2 separate regions of the Homo sapiens genome follow, and region 2 is linked to region 1. The links come from fine-mapping of genetic effects on gene expression. A gene starts in region 1. The other region holds a variant in brackets. All regions are shown on one strand. Distances are between the middles of the regions.

Region 1 (9,036 bases):
AAACACAGGGATTTCATGCCCACCGGGAAGAGTCAGGAAATCTGGGAACCAGTTTAGTACTGAACCACTTGCTGAGACTTGCAGAGATCACCCCGCTCTGTGTCTCACAAGTCATCAAAGAGAGGACTTGACATTGATGATCGCTTCCCTCTGTGACATTTCCAGACTCTATACTTACTTCGAAACTCATAAAAATAAGCATTGACAAGGATATGAGGGTGTGGTAAGCGCATTGCTTCCCCAGACTTGAAACACTTAACAGCAGCGTTTCCTGCGAGTAACATCAAAGACACCTTTGAATTGCACAGGCAGAAATTGAGTCCCTTTTCCAGTTCTCTTTCAAATCTTCTGGTTACTTCAAGGGATCACTTTGGTTTGGTGCCAGTGTGTCTTTAAACAATTCTATTTATTTATGGACGGTGTGTGTGTGCATATAATTATCTATTTATTTACACATATATGTATAAAATTATATGTACGTAATTTTAGTTTTTAAAGGATCATGCAGTAAAATTGAAATTTTTAGAGTTCAGTTCAATAAAAATTTTAACATAGGTAACCACTATCATAATTAGAATTTTAACACATGCAGCCACCATAATACAAAACAGTTCTATCACCCCCAAAACCTTCTATGCTACCCCCTTTATTCTAACACCCTTCCCTAACCCCTGGCAACACTGATCTTTCCTCCCATAGTATGGTTTTGTCACTTTTGGAGAATATCATATAAATGGATCATATTAATGGTACCTTTGAAATTGGCTTCTTTCTTTTTGTTTTGAGACGGAGTTTTGCTCTTGTTGCTCAGGCTGGAGTGCAATGGCACAATCTTGGCTCACTGCAAACTCTGTCTCCTGGGTTCAAGTGATCCTCCTGCCCCAGCCTCCTGAGTAGCTGGGATTATAGGCGCCCACCACGACACCTGGCTAATTTTTTATGTTTTTTGTAGAGACGGGGTTTCACCATGTTGGTCAGGGTGGTCTCGAACTCCTGACCTCAGGTCATCCACCCGCCTCCGCCTTCCAAAGTGCTGGGATTACAGGCATGAGCCCCACGCCCGGCCAAGATTGGCTTCTTTCAATCAGGCTACTTATTTTGAGATTCATCCAAAGTGTTGCGTGCTTCTTTGCTTTTCTGTTTTGTTGTATTTTATGTTTTTAGCAAGACAGAGGGTCTTGCTCTGTCTCCCAGACTGGAGTGCAGTTGCACAATCATGGCTCACTGCAGCCTCAAACTCCTGGGCTCAAGAGATCTTCCTGCTTCAGCCTCCAGTATCTGGGACTACAGCTGCATGCCACCATGCCTGACTACATACATATATATATATATTTTTTTTTTAGATGGAGTCTCGCTTTATTACCCAGGCTGGAGTACAATGCCACGATCTCAGCTCACTGCAACCTCTGCCTCCCGGGTTCAAGTGATTCTCCTGCCTCAGCCTCCTGAGTAGCTGGGATTACAGGCACCCACCACCATGCCCAGCTAGTTTTTTATATTTTTAGTAGAGCGGGGTTTCACCATGTTGGTCTGGCTGGTCTTGAACACCTGACCTCAGGTGATCCACCCGCCTCAGCCTCCCAAAGTGCTGGGATTACAAGCGTGAGCCACTGCACCTGGCCTGTCGTGTTTTAGTAGTTTGCCCTCTTTATTGCTGAGCAGTGTTTCATGGTATGGGTGAATCACAGTTTGTTTAACCATTCCTCTCTTAAGGGATATTTTTTTTGTTGTTTTTTGTTATTTTTTCCAGTTTTCAGCTATTGCAACTAAAGCACCTATGAATAATCATGTGCAGATTGTGTGTGGTTGCATATTGTTCAAAATCCTCTCTGGCTTTCCAATTCACTTAGAATAAAATTTGCAGTCCTCATGCAGTCTGTAAAATCATACCTGTCTGGCCTTTGTCCAGCCTTTGATAGCGTCTCCTCCCTGCCTCCTCTGCTCTCTTCCTTCTAGCTATCCTGGCTTTCCTGACTTTCTCTGCACATGCAAAGCCCATCCCATTTGTAATGAGTTGAATGACAGACCCTAAAATGTACATTCAGAACGTGCAAATGTGACCTAACTTGGAAAATGTGTTTTTGCAGAAGTAGTTAAGTGAGGGGTCTCAAGATGAGCCTATCCTGGATGAGGGTGGTCCCTAAATGCAATGACAAGTATCCTTGTAAGACGTAGAGGAGGAGGGCCGGGCCCGATGGCTCATGCCTGTAATCCCAGCACTTTGGGAGGCTGAGGCAGGCGGATTGCCTGAGGTCAGGAGTTCGAGACCACTCTGGTGAATATGGTGAAACCCCATCTCTACTAAAAATACAAAAAAATTTAGCCGGGTGTTGTGGTGTGTGCCTGTAATCCCAGCTACTCAGGAGGCTGAGGCAGGAGAATTGCCTGAACCTAGGAGGTGGAGGTTACAGCGAGCCGAGATTGCGCCACTGCACTCCAGCCTGGGCGAAAGAGTGAGACTCCGTCTCAAAAAAAAAAAAAAAAAAGATACAGAAGGAGATGCAGGCACAGGGAATAAGGCCATCTGAAGATATACGGAGAAATTGGAGTGACGCAGCCATAAGCCAAAGAATGCCTGGAGCCTCTTGAAGTTGGAGAAGGTAAGGATCCTCCCCAAAGATCTCGAGAGAGTGTATGGCCCCACTGATGCCTCCATGCTGAATTTCTGGCCTCCCGAAGTGTAAGAGAATTAATTCCTGTTGTTTCAAGCCACCCAATTTGTGGTAATGTGTTATGGCCATCAAAGGAAATTAATAAAACACCTCAGGGCCTTTGCATGTGCCATCTTCTCTACCTGGATTACTCTTTCTCCAGATCCTTGTGGGGCCCATGTCCTCACTTCCTCCTGGTCTCTCTGCTCAACTGTCACCTCCTTAGAGAGTCCTTCTGCTTGTCCTAAGAGAGGCCCTTACTGTATCCCTCTAACTCAATAATTTGTTGCACTTCTCTTTAAATTTCGATCAATTTAGATACATGGTATTTGTTTCCTCCCCTGCCCCACACCCACCCCCTTTTTTTTAGAGACAGGGTCTTGCTCTGTTGCCCCAGCTGGAGTGCAGTGGCACGATCACAGCTCACTGTAGACACAACCTCTTGGGTTCAAGCAATCCTCCCTTCTCAACCTCCCAAGCAAAAGGGATAACAAGCACGTGCCACCATACTCAGCTAATTTTTTTTCTTTTAAAAAAAATTTTTTTTAGACAGAGTCTTGCTCTGTTTCCCAGGCTGGAGTGCAATGGCGTGATCTCAGCTCACCGCAACCTCCACCTCCCGGGTTCAAGCGATTCTCCTGGCTAAGTTTGTTTGTTTGTTTGTTTTTTGGAGAGACTGGGTCTCACTTTTTGGCCCCGGTTGGTCTCAAATTCCTGGCCTCAAGCGATCCTCCTGTCTTGGCCTCCCAAAGTGCTGGGATTACACACATGGACCACCATGCCAGGCTTGTTTCCCTTTTTAAAAAAATCACTTGTCCTCTGTGTATATTTGTTTCAGGGACTGTTGAATAATCCAGCTTTCGGCTGAGAAGCTTTTTGGACATTTGCCTAGTGACAATCTTTCTTTATCTGGGGAGAGATTGGTCAGATAATTAGTCTTGGAGCATGTTAAAGCTTTGTCTCCCAAGAAAGAATTTACATCTATTACAACATCTTTCTCTCTCTCTGGAAAATTGTATCCTTGTTATTAAGACTTTTTTTTTCTTTTTTAGCTTTACAGAAAAGCTGCAAAGATAGCAAGATAATTTTTGTCTACTCTTTATCCAGCTTCCCTGAATGCTAACATCTTATATAACCATAATACATTTACTGAAACAAAAAGATTAACACTGGTTCATTACTACTAACTCAACTCCAAACTTTATTTGGATTTCACCAACTTTATCCACAAATTTGTCCTTTTTTTGATTCCTGGATCCAGTCCAGGGTACTATATTGAATTTAGTTGTCACAGCTCCTTTCCCTCCTCTAGTCTGTGGCAGTGCCTCAGTCTTTGTTTTTCATGACCTTGACAGTTTTGTAGAGGTCTGGTTAGGCATTTTGTAGAATGTGACTCAGTGTGAATTTCCTTTGCTTACTACTATACCTATTATACAAAAAATATACACATATATATATATACATGCACAAATATTTATTTATAGTGTGGAAAATATACATAACATAAAATTTACCATTTTTTAAGTATTATTATTATTTTGTGAGACATGGTCTTGCTCTGGTACGGCCCCGCTGGTGTGGAAAGCGAGCTGTGTTCGGAGGGCCTGAACCTACGGGCTTCCACCGTGGGGCCAATGGAAAGCTGCGGAAGGTGGGCCCCCAAAGGTCTGGGCTCCTGAAGCCGCTGAGGGGCGTGGCCTCCTGGTTTTAAAACATAAAATGGGTGTGAGGTCTGCAGTGCGAGCCAATGAAAGGCAAGGGGAGGCGGGGTCTATGAGGGAGGCGGCCAGTAGAGGCAAGGCTCTTTCGGGTGGCCCCGGAGCGGGGCTCCGACTGTGCGCATGCGCATCGGGCCGGACTACGGGGCGCCGCTGAGCCAAGTGGGCCACCCGGGCACGGCCACGCTCCCGGGTCACGTGACACGGAGGGGGCCGAATTCTGCTGGAGGCAGCGCCATATCCTGGAGGTGAAGGTGAATAGCGTCGGGGGTCGAGCTGGTGTGGGAGAACCACATCCTGATGCGATGTGACCTCGACCCAGCCTGGCCCGGGGTCGGGGATCAGGCTCGGGCCCGTGCGCTCTTTAAGGGAGAGGCGTGGGTTGCGTGGAGGGTCGCGCCCGCTAACCCGGGGGCGTGACCTCGTGCCTCTTGGTGACGTAACATGGGGCGGGCTCACTACTGGGGCTGAGATTTGGGGTCCGGTTGTGGAAAGAGAGGCGGGGCTTCCGCCTGTCCATTGACAAGTAGGTAAGTGGAAGATAACTGTGTGGTGCTGTCGTCGCCACCTTGACTTGTGGTGGCTAGTTTGGGTGGGAGTGGTGGTGATGTAAAGGACTGGGGCTAGCCCCGCGAGGGGCGTGACCTTGTCACGGAGAGGCATGGCTTCACCCCGAGCCTAGGCGCACAAAGGGCGTGGTCTGGCAGGGTTGGGGGCGTGGCCGCACAGAAACTGGCGGCAAGGGTCGTGGCCCTGGATCCTGCTGCGAGAAGGGGCGCGATTTCTTCCGGAGAGGTTCCCTGTCGCGCCCAAGTCTGGGAAGTGCCCTTTCTCTCTTAGGTACCACCTCATGGAGACCCCCGCGGCCGCCGCCCCCGCTGGGAGCTTATTCCCCTCCTTCCTGCTCCTGGCCTGCGGGACGCTGGTGGCCGCCTTGCTGGGCGCCGCTCACCGCCTGGGGCTCTTCTATCAGCTGCTGCACAAGGTGCGGGGCACAGAATGGGAGGTGGGCTGGGGGCAGTCAAAGAGGGAGGGGCCTCGTGGTGCTGCTTCCAGCTCACTCATTGTGCAGGGTGGGAAAGCGAGCCCCGACTAGTCCAGAGGGACTGGTAAGAGGTTCTGTCCAGGGCCCTGTCTCCATTGCCACGCTGTGTATGGAGGCCTGGACTTTGCCACTGGTAAGAGAGAACACGGAAGCTGCCGCTGCCGGGGCACTCGCACCCCACCTACCTCCTTCCCCAGTGACTCTTTTCACAGAACAGATGGACAGCACTCTGTGCTCCCTAACCTGGATGGGATAAATGGGGCAGAGGGCAGGCTCCAGCGAGGGGGTGGCAGTGACAGTTTCATAACAGTTGCCCTCTGCTGAGCTCAGTACTGTAGACTTTCTTACCTACCCCTTACCTTTTCCTTGAAAGTAGGTGCTGTTCTTTCTGTCTTCATTTTCTGCAAGAGGAAGCTGAGGCTCAGAGAGATTGTGTGGTGGTTTGCCCTAGGTGACATGTTTGGAGAGAGCTGACCCCACAGGTGTCCCCCTAAACTCCTTGCACCTCTGTTTGAAATTTACCCCTTCTCCAGACCCCTTCCTCAACCCTTTCTCTCCTAGCAGGGACCAAGCTTGACCTCTCCCTCCCCAAACCCTTCTCTACTGCTTCCTCTGCTAGCCAGGAGTGATGCCACTGACCTTCAGGACTTAGGAGATTTAAAGCAAGCCTTGGATGTGTAGGGCTGTGAGGCAGCTGGAGTTGGGAGGCCTCGGCACAGTCTGTGCCAGCAGCTCACTCCCGTGCCAGGCACATGGTGGCTGGCAGCCTGTCAACTAAGCCCTGGGCCTGTTTAGCGTCCATCAGGAGGGCATCAGGGAGGCTGGGATCAGGAGCCCAGCTGCCAGGCTCTGCAAGGATACTGGAGGGCAGGGAGGAGTCACAGCAGATGGCTCCCTGCCATCTGCTCTGCGTGCGTTGTGCCCCTGGCCAAACCCCCTGGGTTATATAACCCTCTCCTCTCTCCCTGATTGCCCTGCCATCCTGGAGACAGGCAGTGTAACAGTGGGGCACTTAAGAGCGTGGGTTCTATTGAACTTTCAGTCTTACTTGGGCAAGCCTTGATGTCCTCAGCTGTAAGAGGGATGTAATGACAAGAGGATCTGATAAGATGTTATGCCTTGGTTTGAGCCTGGCATGTAGTATAATATATGCCTAACCAAGACCAAGCTTCTCTTGACCTCTCACCCTGCTCCTGCCCCCTTACCTGGGGCAGGGGGATTGCCCCCTTTCCCAGCTGCCCTCTGCCCTGGCCTTTAACTTTATTGCTCCACCTGTCCTTGGGCCCAGGTGGACAAGGCAAGCGTCCGGCATGGCGGAGAGAACGTGGCCGCTGTGCTGAGGGCCCATGGTGTGCGGTTCATCTTCACGCTGGTCGGTGGGCACATTTCCCCGCTGCTGGTGGCCTGTGAGAAACTGGGCATCCGTGTGGTGGACACACGCCATGAGGTCACGGCCGTCTTTGCTGCTGATGCTATGGCCCGCCTGTCCGGTGAGGGCATTGCAGAGAGGGCTGGGGACTGGTTGGACTGTGGGCTAGAGTGTCTGTGAGGGTAGGGGTTTTTCAGAGGTGGAAGAATGGCCAAGAGAGTGGGCATGGCTGTGATGGGCTCTGTGTTCCAGGGACGGTGGGCGTGGCGGCAGTGACAGCAGGCCCTGGCCTCACCAACACGGTGACTGCGGTGAAGAATGCTCAGATGGCTCAGTCCCCAATCCTGCTTCTGGGTGGGGCTGCCAGCACTCTGCTGCAGGTACCCAGTCCTTGGGGGCCAGTGGGGGCCTAGGGGGGCTTGAAGGGCTCATGCGATAACCCTGCCACACCTCTGTCTTTGCCAGAACCGGGGTGCGCTCCAGGCTGTTGATCAGCTGTCCCTTTTCCGGCCACTCTGTAAGTTTTGTGTGTCTGTGCGGAGGGTGCGGGACATTGTGCCCACCCTGAGGGCCGCGATGGCTGCCGCCCAGTCGGGCACCCCAGGTAGGTGGAGGATGGTGATGCTGAGCAGTGCTGGGGCCGAGGGGCTGGGGACATGTTATGGACTCAGCGTCCTCCCTGTCCCTGCAGGTCCGGTGTTTGTGGAGCTGCCCGTTGACGTGCTGTACCCCTACTTCATGGTCCAGAAGGAGATGGTGCCAGCCAAGCCACCCAAGGGCCTCGTGGGCCGAGTGGTCTCCTGGTGAATAGCCCCACCCCTGCCATTCCCTCCTTTATCCCCCGTTCTCTCCTGCAGCTTCCAGCCCACACCCATCCTCCTTTGATTCACATGTGGACTGGGAGGAGACAGCTGGGGGGAGAGCATTCCAGGTAGAAGGAACAGCATGTGCAAAGGTCCTGAGGCAGGAATGAACTGGGTGGGTAGGGAAAGCAAGGCGGCCCTCGTGGAGGCAGCAAAGGGGAGAGGCTCAGGACAGCCCTCCTCCTCCTCCTTTTCCCTTTCTTCTCCTCCTCCATCATCTCTTCTTCCTCCTCTTCCTCCTCCCTCTTCCTTCCTCTTCTCCTCCCTTTCCCCCACCACCTTTCCCATCGTCCTCTCCGTTTTCCTCCTCCTAAAGGATGATCCTTGAACCTCGGAAGGGAGGTTCATTCTTACATTTACAGAGGAGGAAGCTCAGAAAGGTGAAGTCACTTGCCCAAAGTCACACAGCTAAGAAGTGGCAGAGCCCAGGCCGGGTGCGGTGGCTCTCACTTGTAATCCCAGCACATTGGGAGGCCGAGGTGGGCAGATCACGAGGTCAGGAGATCGAGACCATCCTGGCTAACATGGTGAAACCCCATCTCTACTAAAAATACAAAAAAAAAAAAAATTAGCCGGGCGTGGTGGCGGGCGCCTGTAGTCCCAGCTACTTGGGAGGCTGCGGCAGGAGAATGGCGTGAACCCAGGAGGTGGAGCTTGCAGTGAGCCAAGATCGTGCTACTGCACTCCAGCCTGGGTGACAGAGCAAGACTCCGTCTCAAAAAAAAAAAAAAAAGTGGCAGAGCCCAGACTCGAGCCCTCTCCTTCCTCCTCCTTTCCTTCCCTCACATCTTTGTCCTTTTCTTTCTTTTTTTTTTTTTTTGAAACAGATTCTTCGTTCTGTTGCCTAGGCTTGAGTGCAGTGGCGTGATCTCGGCTCACTGCAACCTCCGCCTCCCCCTGGGTTCAAGTGATTTTCCTGCCTCAGCCTTCTGAGTAGCTGGGACTACAGGCGCCCGCCACCACACCTGGCTAATACTTGTATTTTTAGTAGAGACGAGGTTTCATCATGTTGGCCAGGCTGGTCTTGAACTCTTAACCTCAAGTGATCCACCCTCCTCGGCCTCTCAAACATTACAGACATGAGCCACTGCGCCTGGCCTCTTCTCTTCTTCTTCTTCCTTTCCTTTCTTCTCCTCCTCCTCTTCCTCTTCTTCCTCCTTCTCTCCCTTCCCCTCAGTCCCTTCCCTTTGCCTGTCCTTGGCCCTTCCTTTCCATACATTTAGCGAGCGGCAGCCATGTGCCAGGTTCCAGGACAGGCACGGGGCATCATCAGTGGACAAGGTAGTCAGGCTCCTGTACTCCGGATGTGTGTGAAGCGCCTGAGGGTCAGCTCAGGCAGTAGTGATTTTGTTCTATGGCCTCTTTATTTTTTTTGAGACGGAGTCTCGCT
Region 2 (9,036 bases), 39 kb before region 1:
AAGGATACCAATCCTATTGGATTAGGGTCCCACATTTATAACCTCATATAACCTTAATTACCTCCTTAAAGGCCCTATCTCACCAGGCTTGGTAGCTTGCACCAGTAATTTCAGCTACTTGGGAGGCTGAGGCAGGAGGATCACTTGAGTCCAGGAGTTGGAGCCTGCAGTGAGCTATGACTGCATCACTTCACTCCAGCCTGGGTAACAGAGCAAGACCCTGTCTAAAAATAAAGTCCTATCTTCAAATGCAGGCACATGGAAATTTTATATATTATTTAGGGTTTTAGTGTATGATTTCTGTTTATTTATTTATTTATTTTTTGAGACCAGGTCTCACTCTGTTGCCCAAGCTGGAGTGCAGTGGCGTGATCTTGGCTCATTGCAGCCTCCACCTCCCAGGTTCAAGTGATTCCCCTGCCTCAGCCTCCCGAGTAGCTGGGATTATAGGCATGTGCTACCATGCCCGGCTAATTTTTGTATTTTTAGTAGAGATGGGGTTTCACCATGTTGGCCAGGCTGGTCTCAAGCTGCAGACCTCAAGTGATCCACCCGCCTCGGCATCCCAAAGTGCTGGGATTACAGACGTGAGCCACCGTGCCCGGCCATTGTATGATTTTTAGAGGGGGCACAATTGAGTCCATACAGATCCTGCTAGCATTACTGAGGCACCCGCTGAATGTCTCTAATGCACATAAAACATCTTATTTCATCTCTCTGAGGACGCTGTAAAGTAGCTATTGACATATACTTCAATTTACAAACTCCCTTCCTCTGTCCATATTTTAATGTTGTGAAATGGAATCATCTATTACAGTGGACAGATAAAAAAACCTGCTCAACCCAGACTTTTCCTTCTGCCTTCCCATCCCAAAGTAGGTATTAGAGGTATTAAAGGGGTGGCCCAATGTAATTGTGGTGGTATCTTAGCATGGTGGAATGGCTGCGTCATCCTGATTTTGCCAATGAGAAGCTCAGAGCTTCAAAGTGATTTGCCCAGAGCCTTCCAGCTACTAAGGGGTGGGGTTGGAACTTGAACCTGGATCAGATGCTATCCCAATCTGCTTATACTGTGTGCTTATAGTCCCAGCTACTTGGGCCGCTGAGGTGGGAGGATCATTTGAGCCCAGGAAGTTGAGGCTGCAGTGAGGTATGATTGCAGCACTGCACTCCAGCCTGAGTGACACAGTGAGACTCAGTCTCTAAAAAATATATACATAAATAATTAAAGCCATTTATTACTCAAAAAGACCAAAAAAAAAAAAAAAAAGAAACCTTGTGTCTTCCTTTTATTACCTCCTTGGGCTATGGCACACATTGATTTCCTGTTAATCTCAGCACTTTGGGAGGCTGAGAGGGGCTGATCACCTGAGGTCAGGAGTTCGAGACCAGCCTGGCCAACATGGTGAAACCCCTTCTCTACTAAAAATACAAAAAATTAGCTGGACACCGTGGCATGTGCCTGTAATCCCAGCTACTCCAGAGGCTGAGGCAGGAGAATCACTTGAACCCGGGAGGCGGGGGTTGCAGTGAGCTGAGATCATGCCACTGCACTCCAGCCTGGGGGACAGAGCGAGACTCTGTCTCAAAAACAAATAAAACACCAAACAGATGGTAAATGATTTCCCAGGGCTCTGTGTGTATCTCCTAAAGAGAAACCTGTAGGAATGCCCAGCCCCATCCCTGGCAGTGGCTCTCCCCAGCACCAAAGGGTGAGATCTGAGATCCAGGGTGCCTGCCCCTCCAGGTAGAGGAGCCAGGCATGGGGGCTGAGGAGGCTGTGGATTGCCGTCAGTGGACTCAACACCATCTGGTTGCTGCTGACATCCGCGTGGCACCAGCCATGGCACTGACACCACCACAGGGCGACGCAGATGCTGATGGCATGGATGTCAATGTGCGTGGCCCAGGTTAGTGACAGTGCCCCTCCCAAAGGGATGCCCCTCACCCATCCTACCTGTGAGAGGTTATTTCTGACTCTGTGTTTTGGGGAGAACTGGGGGAGTCTCTAAGCTTCTGTGAAGGGTGTGTGTATTCAGCAACACTCTTGGTTGGAAGTGACAAAGGTCCAACTCAGACTAGCTTAAGTAAAACAAGGGATTTATCAACTCATTTAACTAAAAGTGGCACATTTGGATCCAGGACTCAGTTTTCCCCTCTCTACCCTTTGACTCCAATCTTACAAAACCTTCTTAATGCTCCAGAAAAGTCTCAGGATGCATTCTGATTGGACAGACTAGGGTCACGTGCTCATCCTTGAGCCAATCAGTATGACCAGGGGGCTGGAATATGCAAATTGACCAAGCCTGATTCACATACCTGTCTTTGAGCTGGTGGGGGTCGGGTCTGCTGGTGGAGCGGGGAGGTCAGTCTCTACCCAGGGCTTGAGAATGGAGAACCGGATGCAAGTGGCTCCCTAAGAAAAATGAGGACAAGTGCTTGTGTACAGTGTGTGCAGTGTAGCGGACTATGTTGTTTGATCCTCTTAGATCCATCTTTGTTATGTTTCAGGGCATTCCTGCCTTAGCTTCATTTTGCTTATGCTCCAAATGGCCTGTACTTATGGCTCTCTTTTGAAGTCCCTCTGGCTGCTGGGGCCTGAAGTGCCTGGGATTTTATGTCCCTGGGGGCAGCTCTTTTTTTCCCCCCCCCTTTTAAAACACTCAAATGAATTGGCAGAAAGGGGCAGCTCCTAACCAGTGGGTGCAGGAGTATGAAGGGGATGGTTTCTTTGCCTTGAGTTGGATTAGAACTCTGGGGTACAACACATGTTCCAGAGTCCCTTTGGAGGATCAAGGTGGAATAACCCTTTGGGAATTTACTGGAGGTTGCACACTTGCTTGACTCCCAGAGTCCCTTGTCCTGTGTTCCCTGTGCCCTAGGAGTAGTTCTGTGACAAATCACGTGCCCACGAATCCTCATTCTGGGTGTGGGTGTGCAGACAGGAGGATCTGCTAATTGTCATTTTTCCATGTGTCCCATTAGCTCCTAATGGGGTACCCTTGATAACATTTCCTGGAAAAGGCCCTGTGTTTACCTTCCTGCTGACACACTCCTGTCCCTGCAGATGGCTTCACCCCGCTAATGCTGGCTTCCTTCTGTGGGGGGGCTCTGGAGCCAATGCCAACTGAAGAGGATGAGGCAGATGACACATCAGCTAGCATCATCTCCGACCTGATCTGCCAGGGGGCTCAGCTTGGGGCACGGACTGACCGTACTGGCGAGACTGCTTTGCACCTGGCTGCCCGTTATGCCCGTGCTGATGCAGCCAAGCGGCTGCTGGATGCTGGGGCAGACACCAATGCCCAGGACCACTCAGGCCGCACTCCCCTGCACACAGCTGTCACAGCCGATGCCCAGGGTGTCTTCCAGGTGAGATAGGCACACACTTTGGACCTCAGAGCTGGGGCAGGCATTAGACTTACCTGGGTTTGAGCCCCAGTTCTGCCTTTCAGACTCATTTTTTCTCATTTGGAAAATGGGGATATATGGGAATACAGTATCTGTCAAGCAGCTGCTCCCTGAACCTCACCAATTTCAGGGGTTGGGGTATGGGGGTTGGGGACTTCATGGGACTTAGGGGTGCTCCTGATTCCTCTGTTCCTGCCATGACCCCTCCTGCTGCATCCACTCTCTGTCCTAGATTCTCATCCGAAACCGCTCTACAGACTTGGATGCCCGCATGGCAGATGGCTCAACGGCACTGATCCTGGCGGCCCGCCTGGCAGTAGAGGGCATGGTGGAAGAGCTCATCGCCAGCCATGCTGATGTCAATGCTGTGGATGAGCTTGGTAGGTTGGCAGAGGAATCAAGTCTAAGCTGGGTTGGTGTCACCTGGGCCCTGAGGGTCATGTTGGTGCAAATTCATACCCATGTTGAGACCCAATCACTGAAGCTCACGCACACATAACCAGGCTTCATGAAGCCTGCAGGGTCATGCAGGGTCACCACTAGTCCTTAGGGTGCCTCAGGGATTTAGAAAAAGGTGCCTTTCCCCTAGATACTTCATTTCCACCTGCTTTGTTAGACGGACACACTGTACTTCCACCTGCTGGAAGTTATTATAATAAACGTACACATCAGGCCATGTGTGGTGGCTCATGCCTGTGATCCCAACACTTTGGGAGGCTGAGGCAGGAGGATGACTTGAGGCCAGGAGTTTGAGACCAGACTGGGCAACATAGTGGGTTCTACAAAAGTTTTTTGAAAGATTAGCCATGTGCGGTGGTGCATACCTGTGGCCCTAGCTACTCCAGAAACTGAGGTGGGAGGGTCGTTTGAGCCCAGGAGGTTGAGTCTGTGAGCCGTGATTGTGCCCCTGCACTCCAGCCTGGGGGACAGACTCCATCTCAAAAAAAAAAAACAGTCTCCAGACGTTGCCAAATGCTCTGGGGGCTGGGGGCAGGGAGTTTCTCCTAGTTGAGAGCCACAGTTCTAGGGCAGGGCTGGCCAATAGGACTTTCTGTGATGATGGAATTATTCTCTGCACTGTCCAGTATAGTAGCCACTGGCCACATATAGTGACTTGAAATGTGACTGAGGCAAATGAAGAAGTAAATGTTTTAGTTCATTTAATTTTTTTCTCCTTATGTTGCCCTTTTTTT[AAT/T]TTTTTTTTTTGAGACAGAGTCTCACTCTTGTCACCCAGGCTGGAGTGCAATGGTGTGATCTTGGCTCACTGCAACCTCCACTACCCAGGTTCCAGTGATTCTCCTGTCTCAGCCTCCCAAGTGTCTGGGACTAAAGGTGCCCATCACCATGCCTGGCTATTTTTTTGTATTTTTAGTAGAGACGGGGTTTCGCAATGTTGGCCAGGCTGGCCTCAAACTCCTGACCTCAGGTGATCCACCTGCCTTGGCCTCCCAAAGTGCTGGGGTTATAGGCATGAGCCACTGAGTCCATCCTTTTTTTTAAAAACAAAAAACAAAAAACAAAAAACTGCTTTATTGAGATATAATTAACATGCCATACAATTCACCCATTTAAAGTGTACAATTCAATGGCTCTTAGTATAATCAGAGTCATACAACTATTACCACAATCAATTTTAGAACATTTCATCACCTGAAAAATAAATTCTCACCACTTGGCCATCATCTGCCAAGCCCCTCATCTGTCCAGCCCTGTGCAACCACTGATTTGCTTTTTGTCTTCATGGATTTGCCTGTTCTGGACATTTCATATAAATGTAATCATATGATACGTGGTCTTTTTTGTCTGCCTTTTTTTCAGTTAGCATTATGTTCTCAAGGTTCACCCATGTTGTAGCATAGTTCAGCTGAATAATAATCCATTGTGTCGATGGACCACTTTTTTTTTCTTTTATTTTTAGACATAGGGTATCACTCTGTCACTCAGGCTGGAGTGCAGTGGCATGATTACGGCTCTCTGCAGCCTCAAACTCCCAGGCTCAAGTGATCCTCCCATCCCACCCTCCTGAATAGCTGGTATTACAGGTGTGTGCCAGCATACCTGGGTAATTCTTAAATTTTTTGTGGAAATGGGGTCTCACTTTGTTGCCCAGGCTGATCTCAAACTCCTGGCCTTAAGCAATACTCCCACCTTGGCCTCCCAAATTGTTGAGATTATAGGCGTGAGCCACTGTGCCTGGCCAAAAGTTTCAATTTTGATCATGTCCAATTTATCTGTTTTGTAGTTGTTATTGTTATTTGTGGTTTTGGTGTCACATCTAAGAATCTTGGCCTAATTCAAGGTCATGAAGATTTACTCTTATGTTTTCTTCTAGATGTTTAGTTCTATAGTTGGAGCTCATATATTTAGGTTTCTGATCCATTTTGAGTTAGTGTTTGTATAAAGTGTGAGGTAGGGGTCCAACTTCATTCTTTGAATGTGAATATTCAGTTGTTCCAGCACCATTAGTTGAGAAGACCATTCTTTCCCCATTGAATGGTCCTGGCACCTATTTTATTAAATTTAAATCTAAAGAACCACATGTAGGTTGGGCACGGTGGCTCATGCCTGTAATCCCAACACTTTGGGAGGCCAAGGCTGGTGGATCACTTGAGCTTAGGAGTTTGAGACCAGTTTGGGCAACATAGTGGAACTCTATCTCTATCAAAAATACAAAAAATCAGCTGGGCATGGTGGTACATGCCTGTAGTCCCAGCTACTAGGGAGGCTGAGGCAGGAAAATCGCCTGAGCCCAGCAGGTAGAGGTTGCAGTGAACTGAGATTGTGCCAATGGACTCCAGCCTGGGTGACAGAACAAGACACTACCTCAAAAATAAATAAATGGATAAATAAAAACCACATGTGACTGACTACTGTATTGGATGTCACAACCCTAGGTTCAACTGAAGGAGGTCCACACAGCACCCCCTGTGTATAAACAGTCATGCACATGCACGCACACACACACACACACACAAACACACACACACAGACACAAAGTGCTTCCCCATTGCACAGAGTCATTTTGCAGATTTGCACACACATGGATCCAGACACAAGTACTTGGATATTCACGGCAGGCCTGCCTCCTCTACCCCTAGGCCACATTCTAGACAATTTCTGCCTCCCTGACATGGGGGCCCCAGGACAGGTGCCTGGTCCTGACCTCTCTCCCCTTCATCCTCCAGGGAAATCAGCCTTACACTGGGCTGCGGCTGTGAACAACGTGGAAGCCACTTTGGCCCTGCTCAAAAATGGAGCCAATAAGGACATGCAGGATAGCAAGGTGAGCCCCAGCCCTTGGTCCACTGGGTGTCAGCAGTGGCACAGTGCCATTGCAATCCAGCCTGGGCAACAGAGTGAGACTCTCTCAAAAAACAAAACAAAATAAAACCCCAAACATTGGATTAAAATATAATTTACTTTGGTGACTAAAGTTTTTGGGGGCCCCTTAAATTTTGTGCCTAATGGCTGGGTGTGGTGGTTCATGCCTATAATCCCAGCACTTTGGGAGGTCGAGATGGGTGGATTACTTGAGTTCAGGAGTTTGAGACCAGCCTGGCCAACGTAGTAAAACCCTGTCTCTATTAAAAATACAAAAATTAGCTGGGCGTAGTGGTGCACACCTGTAGTCCCAGCTGCTCGGGAGGCTGAGGCAGGAGAATCGCTTGAACCCGGAAGGCTGAGGTTGCAGTGAACTGAAATGGCGCCACTGCACTCCAGCCTGGGCGACACAGTGAGACTCTGTCAAAAAAAAAAAAAAAAAAAGACAAGAAAAAAAAAGTTATGCCTAAGGTGAGTACCTCGCTTAACTCACCCTAGTCCTGGCCTTGACCTCTGGCACTTAGTAGGTGATGGATGAATGTGGTTTAGAGGAAAGAACTTGTCCAGGCTCCCCCAGCACAGCCGGGATTTAACCCAGGTCTGTCAAGCTCCAGTGTACAAACTCATAGCTCTCGGGCTCCCCCAAGAGGCTGGAAGACTTTGCTACTGTTAGCTGGGGTTTCGCTGACCTCTGTGGGTTCTGGCCCCCCAGGAGGAGACCCCCCTATTCCTGGCCGCCCGCGAGGGCAGCTATGAGGCTGCCAAGCTGCTGTTGGACCACTTTGCCAACCGTGAGATCACCGACCACCTGGACAGGCTGCCGCGGGACGTAGCCCAGGAGAGACTGCACCAGGACATCGTGCGCTTGCTGGATCAACCCAGTGGGCCCCGCAGCCCCCCCGGTCCCCACGGCCTGGGGCCTCTGCTCTGTCCTCCAGGGGCCTTCCTCCCTGGCCTCAAAGCGGCACAGTCGGGGTCCAAGAAGAGCAGGAGGCCCCCCGGGAAGGCGGGGCTGGGGCCGCAGGGGCCCCGGGGGCGGGGCAAGAAGCTGACGCTGGCCTGCCCGGGCCCCCTGGCTGACAGCTCGGTCACGCTGTCGCCCGTGGACTCGCTGGACTCCCCGCGGCCTTTCGGTGGGCCCCCTGCTTCCCCTGGTGGCTTCCCCCTTGAGGGGCCCTATGCAGCTGCCACTGCCACTGCAGTGTCTCTGGCACAGCTTGGTGGCCCAGGCCGGGCGGGTCTAGGGCGCCAGCCCCCTGGAGGATGTGTACTCAGCCTGGGCCTGCTGAACCCTGTGGCTGTGCCCCTCGATTGGGCCCGGCTGCCCCCACCTGCCCCTCCAGGCCCCTCGTTCCTGCTGCCACTGGCGCCGGGACCCCAGCTGCTCAACCCAGGGACCCCCGTCTCCCCGCAGGAGCGGCCCCCGCCTTACCTGGCAGTCCCAGGACATGGCGAGGAGTACCCGGCGGCTGGGGCACACAGCAGCCCCCCAAAGGCCCGCTTCCTGCGGGTTCCCAGTGAGCACCCTTACCTGACCCCATCCCCCGAATCCCCTGAGCACTGGGCCAGCCCCTCACCTCCCTCCCTCTCAGACTGGTCCGAATCCACGCCTAGCCCAGCCACTGCCACTGGGGCCATGGCCACCACCACTGGGGCACTGCCTGCCCAGCCACTTCCCTTGTCTGTTCCCAGCTCCCTTGCTCAGGCCCAGACCCAGCTGGGGCCCCAGCCGGAAGTTACCCCCAAGAGGCAAGTGTTGGCCTGAGACGCTCGTCAGTTCTTAGATCTTGGGGGCCTAAAGAGACCCCCGTCCTGCCTCCTTTCTTTCTCTGTCTCTTCCTTCCTTTTAGTCTTTTTCATCCTCTTCTCTTTCCACCAACCCTCCTGCATCCTTGCCTTGCAGCGTGACCGAGATAGGTCATCAGCCCAGGGCTTCAGTCTTCCTTTATTTATAATGGGTGGGGGCTACCACCCACCCTCTCAGTCTTGTGAAGAGTCTGGGACCTCCTTCTTCCCCACTTCTCTCTTCCCTCATTCCTTTCTCTCTCCTTCTGGCCTCTCATTTCCTTACACTCTGACATGAATGAATTATTATTATTTTTATTTTTCTTTTTTTTTTTACATTTTGTATAGAAACAAATTCATTTAAACAAACTTATTATTATTATTTTTTACAAAATATATATATGGAGATGCTCCCTCCCCCTGTGAACCCCCCAGTGCCCCCGTGGGGCTGAGTCTGTGGGCCCATTCGGCCAAGCTGGATTCTGTGTACCTAGTACACAGGCATGACTGGGATCCCGT

Direction of the effects. Positions count from the first base shown, and alleles are read on the strand shown. Sizes are in standard deviations (SD) of each study's normalised expression.
As copies of AAT replace T in region 2, the expression in monocytes of the gene that starts at base 4,493 in region 1 goes up (small effect, 0.32 SD a copy in CEDAR).

What was found.
Region 2: its variant is fine-mapped to the expression of HACL2 in monocytes (CEDAR, PIP 0.95).

Annotation. Positions count from the first base shown.
Region 1 is chr19:15,121,243-15,130,278 of GRCh38, reverse strand. HACL2 (2-hydroxyacyl-CoA lyase 2) reads left to right here and starts at 4,493. Exons shown (of 16, transcript NM_006844.5): 1 at 4,493-4,623; 2 at 5,210-5,354; 3 at 6,703-6,904; 4 at 7,036-7,163; 5 at 7,249-7,387; 6 at 7,475-7,586. The coding sequence starts at 5,220. ILVBL-AS1 (ILVBL antisense RNA 1) reads right to left here and starts at 6,119. Exons shown (of 3, transcript NR_186314.1): 1 at 6,054-6,119; 2 at 5,774-5,815; 3 at 4,105-4,352. RefSeq lists silencers at 4,350-4,419, 4,990-5,039 and enhancers at 4,640-4,729, 4,224-4,987, 4,988-5,753.
Region 2 is chr19:15,160,123-15,169,158 of GRCh38, reverse strand. It overlaps NOTCH3 (notch receptor 3), which reads left to right. Exons shown (of 33, transcript NM_000435.3): 29 at 1,748-1,910; 30 at 3,068-3,372; 31 at 3,644-3,791; 32 at 6,597-6,694; 33 at 7,445-9,036. The coding sequence ends at 8,497. Among named protein-coding and RNA genes, the nearest start is that of MIR6795, 15 kb to the left of the region's middle. The variant AAT/T (reference allele first, on the strand shown) is at 4,605.